Linked DNA regions of Homo sapiens: region 2 is linked to region 1. Evidence: fine-mapped expression QTL. Tissue or cell type: monocytes after LPS. Region 1 holds a variant in brackets; the other region holds the start of a gene. All regions are shown on one strand. Distances are from middle to middle.

Evidence for each region. PIP is the estimated chance that this variant, and not a neighbour inherited with it, causes the effect.
Region 2: COMMD5 starts here. The variant in region 1 is fine-mapped to the expression of COMMD5 in monocytes after LPS (Quach 2016, PIP 0.95).

The regions. Positions count from the first base shown.
Region 1 is chr8:144,812,907-144,821,010 of GRCh38, forward strand. LOC100130027 (a long non-coding RNA gene) reads right to left here. Exons shown (of 5, transcript NR_147501.1): 2 at 3,054-3,202; 3 at 1,410-1,538; 4 at 285-400. It also overlaps a transcript of ZNF517 not described here. Among named protein-coding and RNA genes, the nearest start is that of ZNF7, 11 kb to the right of the region's middle. The variant T/C (reference allele first, on the strand shown) is at 4,071.
Region 2 is chr8:144,848,477-144,856,580 of GRCh38, forward strand. It overlaps COMMD5 (COMM domain containing 5), which reads right to left and starts at 4,572. Exons shown (of 2, transcript NM_014066.4): 1 at 4,363-4,572; 2 at 1,700-2,919. The coding sequence starts at 2,862. The coding sequence ends at 2,188. RefSeq lists silencers at 2,429-2,580, 4,613-4,802 and enhancers at 3,787-4,635, 4,213-4,542, 5,093-5,192.

The DNA.
Region 1 (8,104 bases):
ACAAAATTAACATACAAAACCCAGTAACATTTCTACATACCAAACTACCAAAAAAAACCAGGAAAGCAATTCCATTTACAATAGCTACCAAAACCAAAAAACAAACCTAGGAATAAATTTAACCAATGAGGCTGGGCGCAGTGGCTCATACCTGTAATACTAACACTTTGGGAGGCCGAGATGGTGGATCACGAGGTCAGGAGATTGAGACCATCCTGGCTAATACAGTGAAACCCCATCTCTACTAAAAATACAAAAAATTAGCCGGGCCTGGTGGCACACACCTGCAGTTCCAGCTACTCGGGAGGCTGAGGCAGGAGAATCGCTTGAACCTGGGCGTCGGAGGTTGCAGTGAGCCGAGATGGCACCATCGCACTCCAGCCTGGATGACAGAGCCGGACTCTGTCTCAAAAAAAAAAAAAAAAAAAAGAAAATTAACCAATGAGGTTAAAGAGCTCTACAAGGACAATTATAAAACACTGATGAATAGGTCACACACACACAAAACGGAAAGTCATCTCATGTTCATGGATTGGAATAATTAATTTGGTGAAAATGACAATACTACCAAAAGCAATTTACAGATTAAATGCAATCCCCATCAAAATACCAATGACATTCTTCACAGCAATAGGGAAAAAAAATCCCGAAATTCATATACAATGACAGAAGACGCTGAACAGCCTAAATCAATCCTGAGCAAAAAGAACAAAGCTGAAGGCATCACACTACTTTAAAATATAGTACAAAGCTATAATAATCAAAACAGCATGGGCCAGGCACAGTGGCTCATACCTATAATCCCGGAATTTTGGGAGGCCAAGGTGGGCAGCTCACATGAGGCCAGGAGTTCATGACCAGCCTGGCTAACATAGCAAAACTCCATTTCTACTAAAAATGCAAAAATCAGCCTGGCGTAGTGGTGCACACATGTAATCCCAGCTACTTGGGAGGATGTCTTGAACCCGGGGGCAGAATTTGCAGTGAGCCAAAGTCGTGCCACTGCACTCCAGCCTGGGGAACAGAGTGAGACCCTGTCTCAAAAAACAAAACCCAGCATGTTACTGATATAAAAACAGACACATAGACCAATAGAACAAAATAGAGAACCCAGAAATAAGTCCATATATTCAGTGAACTGATTTTCAACAAAGGTGCCAAGAACATTAACTGGGGAAAGAGCAGTGAATGGTGCTGGGAAAACTGGAAATACATTTTGAGGATACGCAGAAAAATGAAACTAGAACCCTATCTTGTCCGGGTGCAGTGGCTCATGCCTGTAATCTCAGCACTTTGGGAGGCCGAGGTGGGCAGATCATTTGAGGTCAGGAGTTTGAGACCAGCCTGGCCAACATGGCGAAACCTGTCTACTAAAAATACAAAAATTAGCCAGGTGTGGTGGCACACACCTGTAATCCCAGCTACTTGGGAGGCTGAGGCAGGAGAATTGCTTGAACCAGGGAGTGGAGCGGCGAGTGGAGGTTGCAGTGAGCTGAGAGCACGCCACTTCACTCCAGCCTGGGAGAAAGAGTGAGACTCTGTAAAACAAACAAACAAAAACAAAACAAAACAAAAACCTATCTCTCACCATATATAAAAATCAAATCAAAATAGATTAAAGATGAAAGACATAAATGTAAAACCTGAAAGTATGAAACTACTAGAAGAAAACATTGGGGATATGCTTCAGGACACTGGTCTGGGCAAAGATTTTTTGGGTAAGATCTCAAAAGCAAAGGCAACAAAAGCTAAAATAGATAAGTGGGATTATATCACTCTAAAAACCTGCACAGCCAAGGAAACAACAGAGACAACCTACAGAATGGGAGAAATTTTTTACTAACTATCCATCTGACAAGGGATGAATGACCAGAATATCCTACAGAAATGGGTTTGCCAAAAAAAAAAAAAAAAAAAAAAAAATAGGCCAGGCGCAGTGGCTCACACCTGTAATCCCAGCACTTTGGGAGGCCAAGATGGGCGGATCACGAGGTCAGGAGATCGAGGCCATCCTGGCTAACACGGTGAAACCCCCGTCTCTACTGAAAATACAAAAAAATTAGCCGGGCGCGGTGGTGAGCACCTGTAGTCCCAGCTACTCGGGAGGCTGAGGCAGGAGAATGGCGTGAACCCGGGAGGTGGAGGTTGCAGTGAGCCGAGATCGTGCCACTGCACTCCAGCCTGGGCGACAGAGTGAGACTCCGTCTCAAAAAAAGAAAAAAAAAAAAAAGAATAACGAGAATATATAAGGAACTCGCACAACTCAATAGCAAAAAAAAAAAATAATAATAGTAATAATCTGATTTTAAAAGGCAAGTGATCTGAATAGACATTTTACAAAAGATGTACAAACGGCCAACAGGGGCCAGGTGCAGTGGCTCACGCCTGTTAATCCCAGCAGTTTGGGAGGCTGAGGCAGGTGGATTACTGTGGCCAGGAATTTGAGACTAGTCTGGCCAACATGGTAAAACCCTGTCTCTACTAAAAATACAAAAATTAGCTGGGCATGGTAGCTTGTGCTTGTAGTCCCAGCTGCTTGGGAGGCTGAAGCCCAAGAATTGCTTGAACCCGGGTGGCAGAGGTTGCAGTGAGCTGAGATTGCACACTGCATTCCAGCCTGGGTGACAGAGACTCTGTCTCAAAAAAAAAAAAAAAAAAAAAGCCAAAAAAAAAAGGGTCAACATCACTAATCATCAGAGAAATGCAAATCAAAACCACAATGAGATATCATCTCATCCAGTTAAAATGATTATTAACAAAAAGACAACAGATGCTGGTGAGGATGTGGAGAAAGCAGGTACTCTGCTGGTGGGAATGTAAACTATACAGCCACTGTGGAAAACACTGGAGTTTTCTCAAAAAGCTGAAAAATAGACCTACCATATGATCCAGCAATCCCACTGCTGGGTATATTTCCAAAAGAAAGGAAATCAGTATATCAAAGAGTTGTCTTTACTCATGTTTACTGCGGCACTATTCACAATAGCCAAGATAGGAATCAACCTAAGTGTCCATCAGCATGTGAATGGATAAAGAAAATGAGGTACACTTACACAGTGGAGAACTATTCATCGTCAAAGGAGGAAATCCTAGGCCGGGCGCGGTGGTTCACGCCTGTAATCCCAGCACTTTGGGAGGCTGAGGCAGGCAGATCACCTGAGGTCAGGAGTTCGAGACCAGCCTCAACATGGAGAAACCCCGTCTGTAGTAAAAATACAAAATTAGCCAGGTGTGGTGGTGCATGCCTGTAATTCCAGCTACTCAGGAGGCTGAGGCAGGAGAATTGCTTGAAACTGGGAGGCGGAGGTTGCAGTGAGCCGAGATCGCGCCATTGCACTCCAGCCTGGGCAACAAGAGGAAAACTCCGTCTCAAAAAAAAAAAAAAAAAAAAAATTCCTGTCGTTTGTAGCAACATGGATAGAACTGGAGGTCATTATGTTAAGTGAAATAAGCCAGGTACAGAAGACAAATACTGTACATTCTCACTCATACGTGGGAGTTAATAAAGTTTATCTTGGCCAGGCACAGTGGCTCACGCCTGTAATCCCAGCACTTTGGGAGGCTGAGGCAGGCAGATCACCTGAGGTCAGGAGTTTGAGACCAGCCTGGCCAACATGGCGAAACTCCGTCTGTACCAAAAATATAAAAAATTAGCCGGGCATGGTGACGCGTGCCTGTAATCCCAGTTACTCCGGAGGCTGAGGCAGGAGAATCACTTGAACCTAGGAGGCAGAGGTTGCAATGAGCCAAGATCACGCCACGGCACTCCAGCCTGGGCGACAGAGCAAGACTCCATCTCAAAAAAAAAAAAAAAAAGTTGGTCTAATGTAGGTAGAGAGTAGAATGATGGTTACTGGAGGCTAGGAAGGATGGGGTGGGAGATGAATATATGTTGATTAATGGGTACAAACATAAAGTTAGATAGAAGAAATATATTCCAGTGTTTGATAGCACACTAGGGTGATGATAGTTGTAATAATTTATTGCATATTTAAAAATAGCTAGAAGATTTGAAATGTTTCCAACACAAATAAATGATAAACGTTTGAGGTGATGGGTATCATAATCAA[T/C]GTGATTTGATCATTGCACATTGTATTCGTGTGTAAATATCAAAATACGACATGTACCCCATATATAGGTACAATTATTACATATCCATCGATCAACTAGGGGGGCATTCTCACCTCACGCACTTCTCCTAACTATTGGCCGCTTCCCAGAACCTTATACTTGTCTCTGCAGTTTATTTTCTTATTCTAATACCTATTCTGACTTCTTTTAAAAATGTGTCTTTCCTTCTGTTTTTCCCCCAGTGATTATGTACTCCCTACCACTGCCAAACTTTCTGAAAGGGCTGTCATTGTCTCCACTTCCCTTGCCTCTCGTTCACTCTTTGAAATACTGCAGTTGGATTTTGAACCCCATTACTCCATTAAAATCATCCTCACCAAGTCACCAGCTGACCTCCTTATGCTGAAAACAGCGGACTCTTGTCATTCTTGCCCTCTGAGCACTCGACCGTGCCTTCCTCTCAATCGTCCCTTCCCTGTATTTTCATGACACTGCACTCTGGGTTTTCCTTCTACCTCTCCACTACTCCATCTTTTCCTTTGCCCATTCCTTAAAGATTCATATTGCTGGCCGGGCGCGGTGGCTCATGCCTGTAATCCCAGCACTTTGGGAGGCCGAGGTGGGTGGATCACTTGAGGTCAGGAGATAGAGACCATCCTGGCCAACATAGTAAAACCCCATCTCTACTAAAAAGACAAAAATTAGCCGGGCGTGGTGGCACACACCTGTAGTCCAGCTACTTGGGAAGCTGAGGCAGGAGAATCACTTGAACCCAGGAAGCGGAGGTTGCAGTGAGCCAAGACTGCGCCATTGCACTCCAGCGTGGGTGACAGAGTGAGACTCTGTCTCAAAAAAAAAAAAAAGGTTAATATTTCTTTCTGTCCTAAAGCCATCTGTCTCTTCATTTGACATACCCACTGGACAATTTCATACACTTCCATGGCTAAATTATCTTCTGTAGATGTTGGTGGCATCTAACCTCTAGTCCACATCTCCTGAATTTCCTATCTATATATCCAACTCTCTACAGGACATCTTTATTTGTATGTCTCGAAATGCCTTTTAAATCAAACTCATCATCTCCCAACACTCTCATTTGCCACTGTATCTCAAGTACCCAGGAAACACATTAAGCCTCTAAAAAACATTAATGGCCAGACACTGTGGCTCACACCTGTAATTCCAACATTTTGGGAGGCTGAGACGGGAGAATCCCTTAAGGCAAGGAGTTTGAGACCAGCCTGGCCACATGCATGTGTAAATGTCAAAATATCACATGTGCCCCATAAATACGTACAATTGTTATGTATCACTACAGGCAACATATTGAGACTGTCTCTTAAAAAAAAAAAATCGGCCGGGCGCAGTGGCTCACCCCTGTAATCCCAGCACTTTGGGAGGCTGAGGCAGGCGGATCACGAGGTCAGGAGATCGAGACCATCCTGGCTAACACGGTGAAACCCCGTCTCCACTAAAAATACAAAAAATTAGCTGGGCGTGGTGGCGGGCACCTGTAGTCCCAGCTACTCAGGAGGCTGAGGCAGGAGAATGGCGTGAACCCGGGAGGCAGAGCTTGCAGTGAGCCGAGATCGCGCCACTGCACTCCAGCCTGGGCGAAAGAGCGAGACTCTGTCTCCGGAAAAAAAAAAAAAAGAAAGATCAAATGATCAAATGATGTGAGGCTGTGGTGCCCGCTTTGTAGAAATGAAAGGATCTAATTGAAGACAGAAGTTTTGGGCACAGAGGCCACAGCCCAAATCCTTCACCTAAAATCACTATCTCTGAGCTACTTTTTAACTTTAAAATAAAAGGAAAAAATAAAAAATAAAAAATAAAATAAAATAAAAGGAGGCTGGGCGTGGTGACTCATGCCTGTAATCCCAGCACTTTGGGAGGCTGAGGTAGGTGGATAGCTTGAGGCCAGGAGTTCAAGACCAGCCTGGCCAACATGGCAAAACCCTGTCTTTACTAAAAATACAAAAATTAGCCGGGTGTGGTGGTGCGCGCCTGTAGTCCCAGCTACTCGGGAGGCTGAGGCACAAGAACCGATTGAACCCGGGAGGTGGAGGTTGCAGTGAGCTGAGATCACACCAGCCTGGCTGACAGAGTGAGACTCTGCCTAAAAATAAATAAATAAAAATAAAATAAAATAAAATGTAAAAAGAAACAGGTAACATTAAATACAGTAATACACTTTATTTACCTTAAATCCAAAATATAATTCCAAATGCAATCAATATAAAAAAATCATCGGTGAGAGATTTGATTTGATTTTTCATACTGAGTCTTTGAAATCAAGTGTTTTCATTTGTGGCACATGTCGATTTGGACGGGGCACTTTCCAGGTGTCTGATGGCCACGTGGGGCTTGAGCCCACCATGCTGGACACTGCAGGTCCTGACTAAAGGGGCGCTGGGGTGGGTGAACTGCTGCCTGGCCCCACTTCTGGCCCCTCCTTTCCTGCAGCCCTTCCCACAGGGCCTGCCACTTCTCCCGCTCCCTGCCCCAGGCCACTGTTGGGGAGGTCAGCATAGCCCTTGTCCCCTAAGTTAAATGGAGGGGCAAATCTGCAAGCTTCTGCCCAAAACGTCTCGGAGTGGACACTTCAACCTGGCAGCAACTCTGGGGCCAGTTAGCTTGGATTTCTACGTAACGGGCAAAATGTCATAGGCTCCCACAAGGAAGCAGCGCCCTCCACCCAGCTCTGTGGCCTTTGGCTCTAATCTGACACTGTATGGGTGGCCAGGCCCCCAGGCTGGACCCACAGCAGCCTCCCACTACCGCCAGTGGCCTGAGATTGGCAGTTAGAACTCAGATCCTGAAACTAAACCACATCCTGCAGAACACTAAGCAAGGGACTCACTTTATGATCTAAGATCCAAACTCCTTTGTGAACTCCCCATTGTCTGGCTTGGGGAAAAAAGCCTGTCACTAACTGAGGAGTCTAGTTACTCACACTTCTTCACCAGCAGCCCAAGGGGGTCTGACAGGGGGTAGGGGGAGATCACATTGCATTGGAAAAAGAAACCCCCAGCCTATGGGACACAAGCTCCTTTCACCTGTGCTCCTCCTCTCCTGCTCAGCATCACACCTGGCCTGCAATCACCCACAACTGTCCTCCTCCCACACACAGCTGCTGTGGAAGGCAGGAGGTGGTTCTGTGGGCGTGGGGGAGACCCTGGTGGCACCCTTAGCAGCCTGACCTCTGTGCCTCCGTGTCTCACCTGCAAAGGAGGGCATCTCCTGCCTCACAGGTGCTTGTGAGGACGAGCTGAGAGACCAGCTTTTGAACGGGGAGGGGCTGTGACATGTCAGGGCTGTTCTGGACCCAGGGTTACTGCAGTGAACCAGAAAGATTGTGCTGCAGGAGCCGAGGAGGTTGCCCTGACAGGCCTGGAAGTGGCTTAGGCTTGGATCCTCCATCCCTGAGCACCTGGCATCGGGCAGACCAGCCTCCCTGGGGCAATGCCCACTGAGAAGCTGCAAAGCATCCTCCTGGACCATCTGTACCCTGGGGGGACATCCCTTGGTCCCTCTGTACCCTGCAGACCGGCCCCTCTTGAGGGACACACAGACTCCGGCAAGGCAGGAGCCAAGGGCAGTGAAGCAAACCTGTCAAGGTGCTGCCGTTCCCTTGGGTGTCTCCCGCCAAGCGGCCTCCATTCTCAAGGAAGGGAGCACCGGCCACCTGTATGCATCCACCGCGCGAGTGCGCAGGGGCAGGCTTGCCAGGACGGAGCGGCCTTGCCACCCACTGCCCACGAAGGCATCCTGGCACACCCAGCATGGTCTGAAACCCTCGTATGAAGGAGGAGCTTCTCACAGCCTGCTGCTGCCCCAGCCACAAGAAACACAGGAGCACAGGTAGGGCCCACGGAGTCCTTGAGGCCTGCTACGAGGGGCCAGTAACTACGTTTACGCCAGCAGCCATAAGCACAGGGACACAGGCAGATACCACCAGCCCGGGAAGGACGGGTGCGGTGGCTCACGTGCCACCTGCCTTCTTGCCGCAGCAGGCCTGTGGCCACTCTCT
Region 2 (8,104 bases), 36 kb after region 1:
ACAGGAGTGAAACTCCCGTCTCAAAAAAAAAAAAAGATGGTATTGGAACACAGCCATATACATTTGTTTACGTATTGTGTGACTGCTTTCAAGCCACCATGGCAGGGTGGACAGAAACTTCATGGCCCACAAAATCTAAAATGTTTACTCTCTGGCCCTTTGTGGGAAGAGTTTGCTCACTGCTGAGTCAGAGGAAGTGGCCTCTAAGTCTGCTCCACGCTGTAGGGATCTCAAGTCCAACTGGATCATGTCTGCCCTGATTAAAACCCCACTGCTCCCCCTTGCCCCAGTGGAATGACCAAAATCCTGTGTGTGGCCTTGAGGCCAGCCGCTGTCCCTGCACTTGATCCCCCATCCCTCAATCCCCTATACTCGGGCAGTGCCAGCCCCAGTCCCAGGAATGGCCCACTCCCCTGCCTGTGTCTCATAAGCTGTCTTTTCATGGCTGTGTCTTGATTTGCCTGGGTCCCCGCTTGAGACAAGCCCAAGGGTTCACAGATGAATTGAGGCAAACACAGATTCCCAATGAGAGACGGCGAGAGGTCAGCCTGAGGACCGAGGGCAGGTCCATGCTCTGGGCTCCACACAGGCTTTGCTAAGCAGCTGGGAGAAGCAGAAGGATGGGGCTGTCCCTAAAGCTGCTGTTCCTGCAGGGCCAGGGCCAGTGAGTGAGAAAGGCAACATGGTCCCAGCTGCCCCAGCCCCATCCACATCTGGGGACAGAGAATGCAGGAAGTGGCTGGTCATATTCCTGATCCGATGACAGTGGGGGGACAGTGCCTTCGGGGAGAGAGAAGGGCTTTACCTGGAACTCAGTGAGGGTGGGACAAAGCTGAGTGATCGACCAGATGGCAGGACCCACAAGCATGCACCTTAGAGGGCACCTGGGCTCCTCCCAGAGTCTACTGACCCCACCCCCAGGTACTCCTCTGTACCCTGACATGTCAGAACTGCCCATGGAGGGATGAGGAAGAAATCCAGGCTAGTGGAGGAGACAACCCAAAAACTGCAGACAAGACAAACAGCCAAGCAACCCCAGGCACTCAAAGACAAGGGGAGGTTTCTCAGCAGAGAACAGACTAGACATGGTCCAGAAGTGCTCCACGGAGGCAGGAACAGTCAGCTGGAAGCCAGCTGACCGAAAATGGCTCTGCAGAGACCGAGCACCAAGGCCCCTCCTGGAACACAGTTATGCTGGAAGCTGCAAAGCTGGCTACAACCCCTGCACACACCTGCCCTAGAGGCACCCGGGAGAGGTCCCTGCCACCAACTCCACCCTGGTGACAGCCTCTCTGCTGGGCTCTAGCCTCCTCCCTTGCACCCCTCCACACAGCAGCCAATCACCAGATCACGTCTCTCCTCTGCTGAAAACCCTCAGAAGGGCTCCTCTGTCACTCAGAATTGAGCCAAAGTCCTTAAAAGGCTCTCAGGCCTTGACCTCTGTACCCTCCCCAACGTCGCCTCCCCACAATGATCTCCACCTGCTTGGCTGCAGCCAGGCGGGCCTTAAGCACGTCAGGCCTCCCCACACTGGCCGCCTGAGCCCCGTCCTCCCCACCTTGTGCTGCTCCCCTCAGAGCGCTGTGCCCCCGGCTCCTTCAAGTCCTCGCTCAGATGTCACACCCTCAAGGAAGGTCGCCCCATCAGCACGCAGACCCCACCCTACTTGCTGCATCACACGCCATCCTCTGATGAGCTATTCCAGTTAATTTTTATGATTTATTTTACAATGTTTCCCCTCCCCTCAGCCGCACTAGAATGTCAGCTCCATGGGGTCAGGGATTTAAGGCAGAAGAGTGAAAATGCCCAACCTAAAACACAAGATCTACAAAAGCACCTGGCTACATGGGGCCAGGCTGAGCAACTGTATGTTGTCTACAAAGGGCCTCAACCTGGCCTCACATGGCCACGTCCAGCACCAAAGACAAATGTACAGGGAAGGGGAGGGTGTGAGGTCCAACACTCACCTATAGAAACATGTTTTTAGCTGCTTTACTTCCAAAAAGAAAAAAAGGCATAGCTCTCTTTTTCAATTAAACAGAAAACTACATAATTACGTTCAAACACTCACTGAAGAGCCTGCCTCATGGGAAGGGCAGGGCTGTCGTGGGAAGAGTCAGCTGCACTTTGGCACCATCTCAGGTGCCTGTCCAAGCCGGATCTGAATGGGACTGGTCAAGTGAGGGGTCAGTCCTGCAGTCTGCGCTCACACCTCTTCTCCAGATCTGCCATCTCCTTTAGGACCAGGGCCACGCTGTACCGCAGCTCCTGGAACTTGGCTGTGGGGACCTCAAAGCGGTATGCTGACCCATCTGAAAGCTTCAGCTGCATCAGGACGCTCGGCTGCAGGGAGCGAGCCAGGGCACTGGTGGAGATTGCTACATCCACCCGCCACCGAAAGTCAGCAACATGCGGCAGCCAGGCCCCCTGCTGCTGGGCCACAGAATCAAGGAGGGGCCGCTGGCTCCCAAATACCACGCTGGCCAAGTCCCCGACCAGGTCTTGGGGGATGCAGAGCTCCTGGAGCTGGTCCCTGAAGGTGTCAGGCTTCAGGCTGGTGGGGGGCAGACGGAGGGCCTGCTGGAGCAGTGTGTGCATGCCTGCCAGCAGGGCACCCAGCTGCTCCTCCGGCAGGTTGGCGCTGACCCCAAGACGCTGCACAGCCTCTCGGCAGTCCTCCCCCTGCAGGCTGCTGACCACAAACTTCAGCAACTTTCTGAACGTGCTCCTGTCTAGGTCCCCTAGTAGCCGGGCCATTGCTGCCACCTCTGGAGGAAGCTGGGCCCCCAAGAAACTCACTCGGCCACTGTGACTATCACCAGGATGATGCAGGTATGGAGTTGCAGCCCCCACAGCAGACATTGCTGCTGCTTCCTCTTTGATCAGCCAGCCCAGGAGGTCGGTCCCAGATGCAGATGCCTAGAGTGGGGTGGAGGAGAGAAGACCAGTGACTCTCACATCCTTTGGGCCAGCGAGTGAGGGTTGATATGGTCCCCATCATCAGCATGCTGACAGTGTGAACTACCAATGACAGTCAGTGCTGCGGAGATGGCCCTGGAAGCAGGTGGCAGAGGGGTCCATGTCAGTCCCAGGAGGAGCGGAGGCCTCCCAGAGGAAGTGACATCTAAGGCATGAAGGACAAGCAGGAATTGGCAGAGAAGTAGGGGGCAGGGAGGAGGACCAGGAAACAGCACAAGTTCTCCAAGTAAATTAATAGATGAAAGAATGAACTAGGGGAACGGTCCGGGGAACACAGGGACACTGCAGCTGGCGCCACAGACCACACTGAGACCATTTAACTATTCAATCTTGAATCCTTCACAACAGTGGGCAAGAAGAATTACCATTCTCACCTGACAGAGAGGGAGATAAGGCTCTAGGCCAGGTGCAGTGGCTCAAGCCTGAAATCTCAGCACTTTGTGAAGGTGAGGCCAGCGGATCGCTTGAGCCCAGGAGTTGGAGACCAACCTGGGCATCATAGCAAGACCCCGTTTCTACAAAAAATTTAAAAAACTAGCCAGGCGTGGTGGTGCACGTCTGTAGTCCCAGCTACTCAGAAGGCTGAGAGGACAGAGGATCCCTTGAGCCCAGGAAGTCGTGGCTGCAGTGAGACGAAATCGAGCCGCTGCACTCCAGCCTGGACAACAGAGATGCTGTGAGGAAGGAAGGAAGGAACGAACGAATGGAGGGAGGGGGGAGGGAGGGGAGGCAGGGAAGAAGAAAAGAAAAGTAAAAAGAAATCAAAGCTCTAAACACAGCTGCCAAAGTCAAGGACTGAAGCCTAGACCTGTCTATTCAGAAGTCCCAGCTGTTTCCACCACAGCCCCAACCCCCGGGCTGGAAGAGCTGAGCAACGGCTGGCAACAGAGGCAAGTGCGGCAACTAAAGAGGGTTCCGACGCACCTGAAGGAGCAGTGCAGCAGCACAAGCACCTGCTATGCCAGAGGAAACGCACGTGCCCACCTCAGCACACCAGGTACTGGAGCAGAGCTCAGCGGGGCACAGCTCCTGTCCTCGAGGCACTTGTCAGGCCACTCTGCACAGCGCTGGGGGAGCCCAGGAGCTCCCCACGGGCTTCACGGCGCCCCATTCTCCCTGGGAGTCAACGACCACCCACTGCCAACTCCTTCACCGTCCCGCCAGCACCAGGAGCTCCTTCCCACTCCAAAGAGCCATCCGGGAAGGCCTCCGAGCTGCCCGCTTCCGGTCGCGCGGCTTGGAAGGCCGGGTTCGCACCCTGACTCCGTACCCGCGGCTCTGATGGGGGCGCGGCGTCGCCCGTTCCGGGGCGCGGGGACCTTGGTGCACAGAGTCAAATTGGCACTCGGCCGTCGCCGCCCCCACGGTTCGGGGCCAACCTACCGGCGGGCGCTCCTCCGCGGAAAAGCCCCGCAGTATCCAGAGCTCTCCGAACACAGCGGCGAAGCAGCCTTTCCTAGGCCCACACCCCCAGCTCGGGAGGGAGACTCCATCCTACTCCACCCCACGCTCCCGCTGTCCGAGTCGCCCCCAGCACCTGGCGCCGGCAATCCCCGGCTGATGCAGCCAAAAGCGGGCCTGGTCCCCGGAAGCGCCCTGAGAGCCACTTCCGGGCCGCTCTAGGAAGGCAGCAATGACCGCCCCACTGTGGTCCGCTGGCCCGAGGGGCGGAGCCGAGGCCGCGCCAGGTCCCGCCCCCTCCCCGCCCGGGGGAATCGGGGGTCGCCGGCGGGGTCCCAGACCTCGTCTTAGACAGTTTTTTTTTTTTCTTTCCCCAAAGAAAAAGAAGGCGGTGTTGTGTTTCCGTTTCTGAGGTAGAAACTGCGGCCTGCGCCCGCGTCTCCCTCCCCGCCCGCGCAGAGTGAGGGTAAAGCGGGAGAACGCGTCCCGTGGTCTGGGGTCAGAATTCCAGTCACCTGAGGCTGAGGAGCTCGCTGGCTTTCGTCGGCGTCCGGGTGGGCGGCGGGGAAACCGCGAGACCTTGAGGATCAGCGCGGAGCGGAGCCGAGCGGGCGTCCCTGTCCCGTGTGGACGGTCTGCGCCTCCAGGGTTTTGAGAGCTGCCCCGTTTCCCCTCCTGTCGGGTGGCGTCCGGCGCGCGTGACTCGGTTCCGCTTTGGGCTGCTCTGTTGGGCCCTAGCGCAGGAGCTCGGTCCGAAACAATGGCCGAGCCATTTTATTTAACATGTACTTTACCATAGTTAAAAAATAATATGCCAAAATCATTGAATTGTACAAAATGGGTGAATTATATGGTATGTGAATTATAGCCCAATAAAACTTAAAAAAAAAAAAAAAACTCTGAAAAGGGAAACAACCTAATTAAATGGGCAGAAGATGTGAGTAGACATCAAGGAAGATACAAAGTGGGTAATGGGTACATGAAGCCTTCGGCATTGTTGGCTATTAGAGAAATGCGAATGGAAGCCACGGGGAGGTGCCATTTCATACCATTAGAAGGGTTATAATAAAAATGACAGGTTGGGTGCGGTGGCTCACGCCTGTAATCCCAGCACTTTGGGAGGCGGAGGTGGACAACCAGATCTCAGGAGAACTCTATCATGAGACCATAACTTAAGGGCATGGTACTAAACCATTCATGAAAAGCCACCCCCACGATCCAATCACTTCCCACCAGTCTCCACCTCCAGCATTGGGTATTACCTTTCAGCATGAGGTTTGGGCGGGGACACAGATGCAAACCACATCAGCCATACAATGGAATAGTGTTCAATAATAAATAGGAGTGGAGACTGGGTGCAGTGGCTCATGCCTACAATCCCAGTACTTTATGAGGACTAGGTGGGAGGACCACTTGAGGCTAGGAGTTCAAGACCAGCCTGGGCGACATATCAAGGCTTCATTTTTACAAAATTAAAAAAAAAAACAGGTGTGGTGGTGTGCACCTATAGCAGGGGTCCCCAACCCTCAGGCTGTGGACCGCTACAGGTCAGTGGCCTGTTAGGAACTGACCTCACAGCAGGAGGTGAGGGCAACCTATAGTCCCAGCTATTTGAGAGGCAGAGTGAGGACCACTTCAGTTCAGGAATTTGAGACCAGCCTGGGGAACATGGCAAGACTCCATTTCTAAGACAAAACAAATCAAGTCTAAAAACCATGCTGAGGGAGGATTGTTTAAAGGGAATGGATCTGGGAAGTTTAGAAAGAGACTGCATCTGTAAGGTGTTATTTCTCTTTAAAATATCTGAAGCAAAAAGGTGAAGTGCTATCACTTGTGAGGTCTGGGCGGTGGTTACGTGGCAGACCCACCCCCTCCTGAAGTGAGGAGAGCCAGGAACCTGGGGGTGAGTTTTGGAGACAGTTCCCACCCAAAGGCCAGAGTGCCTGGAGTGCCTGGAGAACTCTCATCTTATTGTAGCAGGATGAGCCACAGACAAAACTTCTCAGACACTGGGTTAAAGAAGGAAGGGGTTTTATTTGGCTGGGAGCTTTGGCAGACTTGTGTCTTAAGAGCTGAGCTCCTCGAAAAAGAAATTACTGGCCCTTTTAAGGGCTTACAACCCTAAAGGGTCCACGTGAAAGGGTTATTATGATAGACTGGGAAAGCATGGAGAACATGACTGGAGGCTACAAGCATCAGCTAACAGAACAGAAAGTTTTACAATGCTTTCTTATACAATGTCTGGAATTTACAGATAACACAAGTAGTTTAGGTTAGGGGTTGATATTATTAACACCAGGGCCAGGTGATGGCACCAAGGTCATCTGGCTATTTATCTTCTGTTTCTTTCTCACTTTTTGTTTTCTCCCATTTCTCCTGTCTTATAAACTAGGCAAGACAGGGGGAGAGGAGGGCAGTAGGAGAAGTGGTGGTCTCCTTCCTTACTATGATCAACATTTGTAAGTTAATTTAGCTTGAAACAATTTCAAGCTTAGATAAAAGGTTGCATGAATAGTGCACCTTCCCAGAGACCCCCATTCAAGGGTCACCAGGTGTCCCTGCAATGTCTCTGAAGGAAAGGAGCCTGTTGCCTGGCAAGAGTGGTGTCATCTCGAAGCAAAATCACTGTGGTGGCCGATGTTAGACTCCTGCATACCAAGGTCTTCACACAAGGCCTGTAGCATTGATAACCCCTCAGAAAGATGCTACCTAACTTCCCCAGCAGTCATGAATTTTGCAAGAAAGTCTAAGACATCACCAGCTGCACATGTTTTTACCAAAAAGCTTGCTATATAAAGGATGCTTTCTGGGGGGCAGGTGCAGGGATCCACTGTCTTGTGGCTGCCCGAGATACTACTTTGTTCATAAGTTTCTAGTAAATGTTTCTTTTGGAGAAACTCCATTTGTCAGCCTCTTTTTTCAGCCTCTCAGCTCCCTTGGCCTTTGGGGGTAGGTTTGTGTGACCTGCTTACTGCGGAGCAATCCCTCAGAGCATCAGGAATCGGCCGAGGGTCACAAGTTGCACCCACTTGTCCTGTTTCTTGTCTCCTTCAGTCTAGAACAGCCTCTCCATCTCCTGGACTTTCAGGACCCTGAAGTTTAATGTTTATATGCAGTCCTTTTGGAAATTTTTTCTCAAATTATCATCATTCTCTTGGTCAAGGCAGTGACTGAGCCTGCCCAGATTCAAGAAGACATTGAAGATATTGCTCCTGCTCTCAAAGGGAGGGAGGCCAAAGAACCTGTGGCATCCTCAGTCAGCCACAGCAGCCACCATGGTGGTAACTCAGGCAAGAAGCACCAATACCTGTGAAAGCCAGGTGTCTCCAGGGCATGAGGCTCAGGATGTTTACACAGTGTCAAAACATCACCATGCAATGTAATTATTATTAATTACAAAGGGGAATAAGGTAACTTCACAGGAGACAAACCAGGCAAACAGCACCCTGGTCAAATGATCTAAGACAAAACCACAAGTAATGGCACAAACCAATGTCATTCTCCAACTGTCAGCTGCGGTGGGAAGGCATCACCGCAGAGCTGCCTGAGACACTTCCACCCAAACTTCTCTCCACTTGGTGTCAAGCTTGAAGCCATCTGATGGCCCCTCCATCTTCCTGGTTACCTCACTATTTTCTACCCCAGACATTTCTCTGAACACGACGTTTGTATCCTTAATCTTGGTGTCTTCTTCTTGGAGGACCCAGACCAACACAAATGGGCC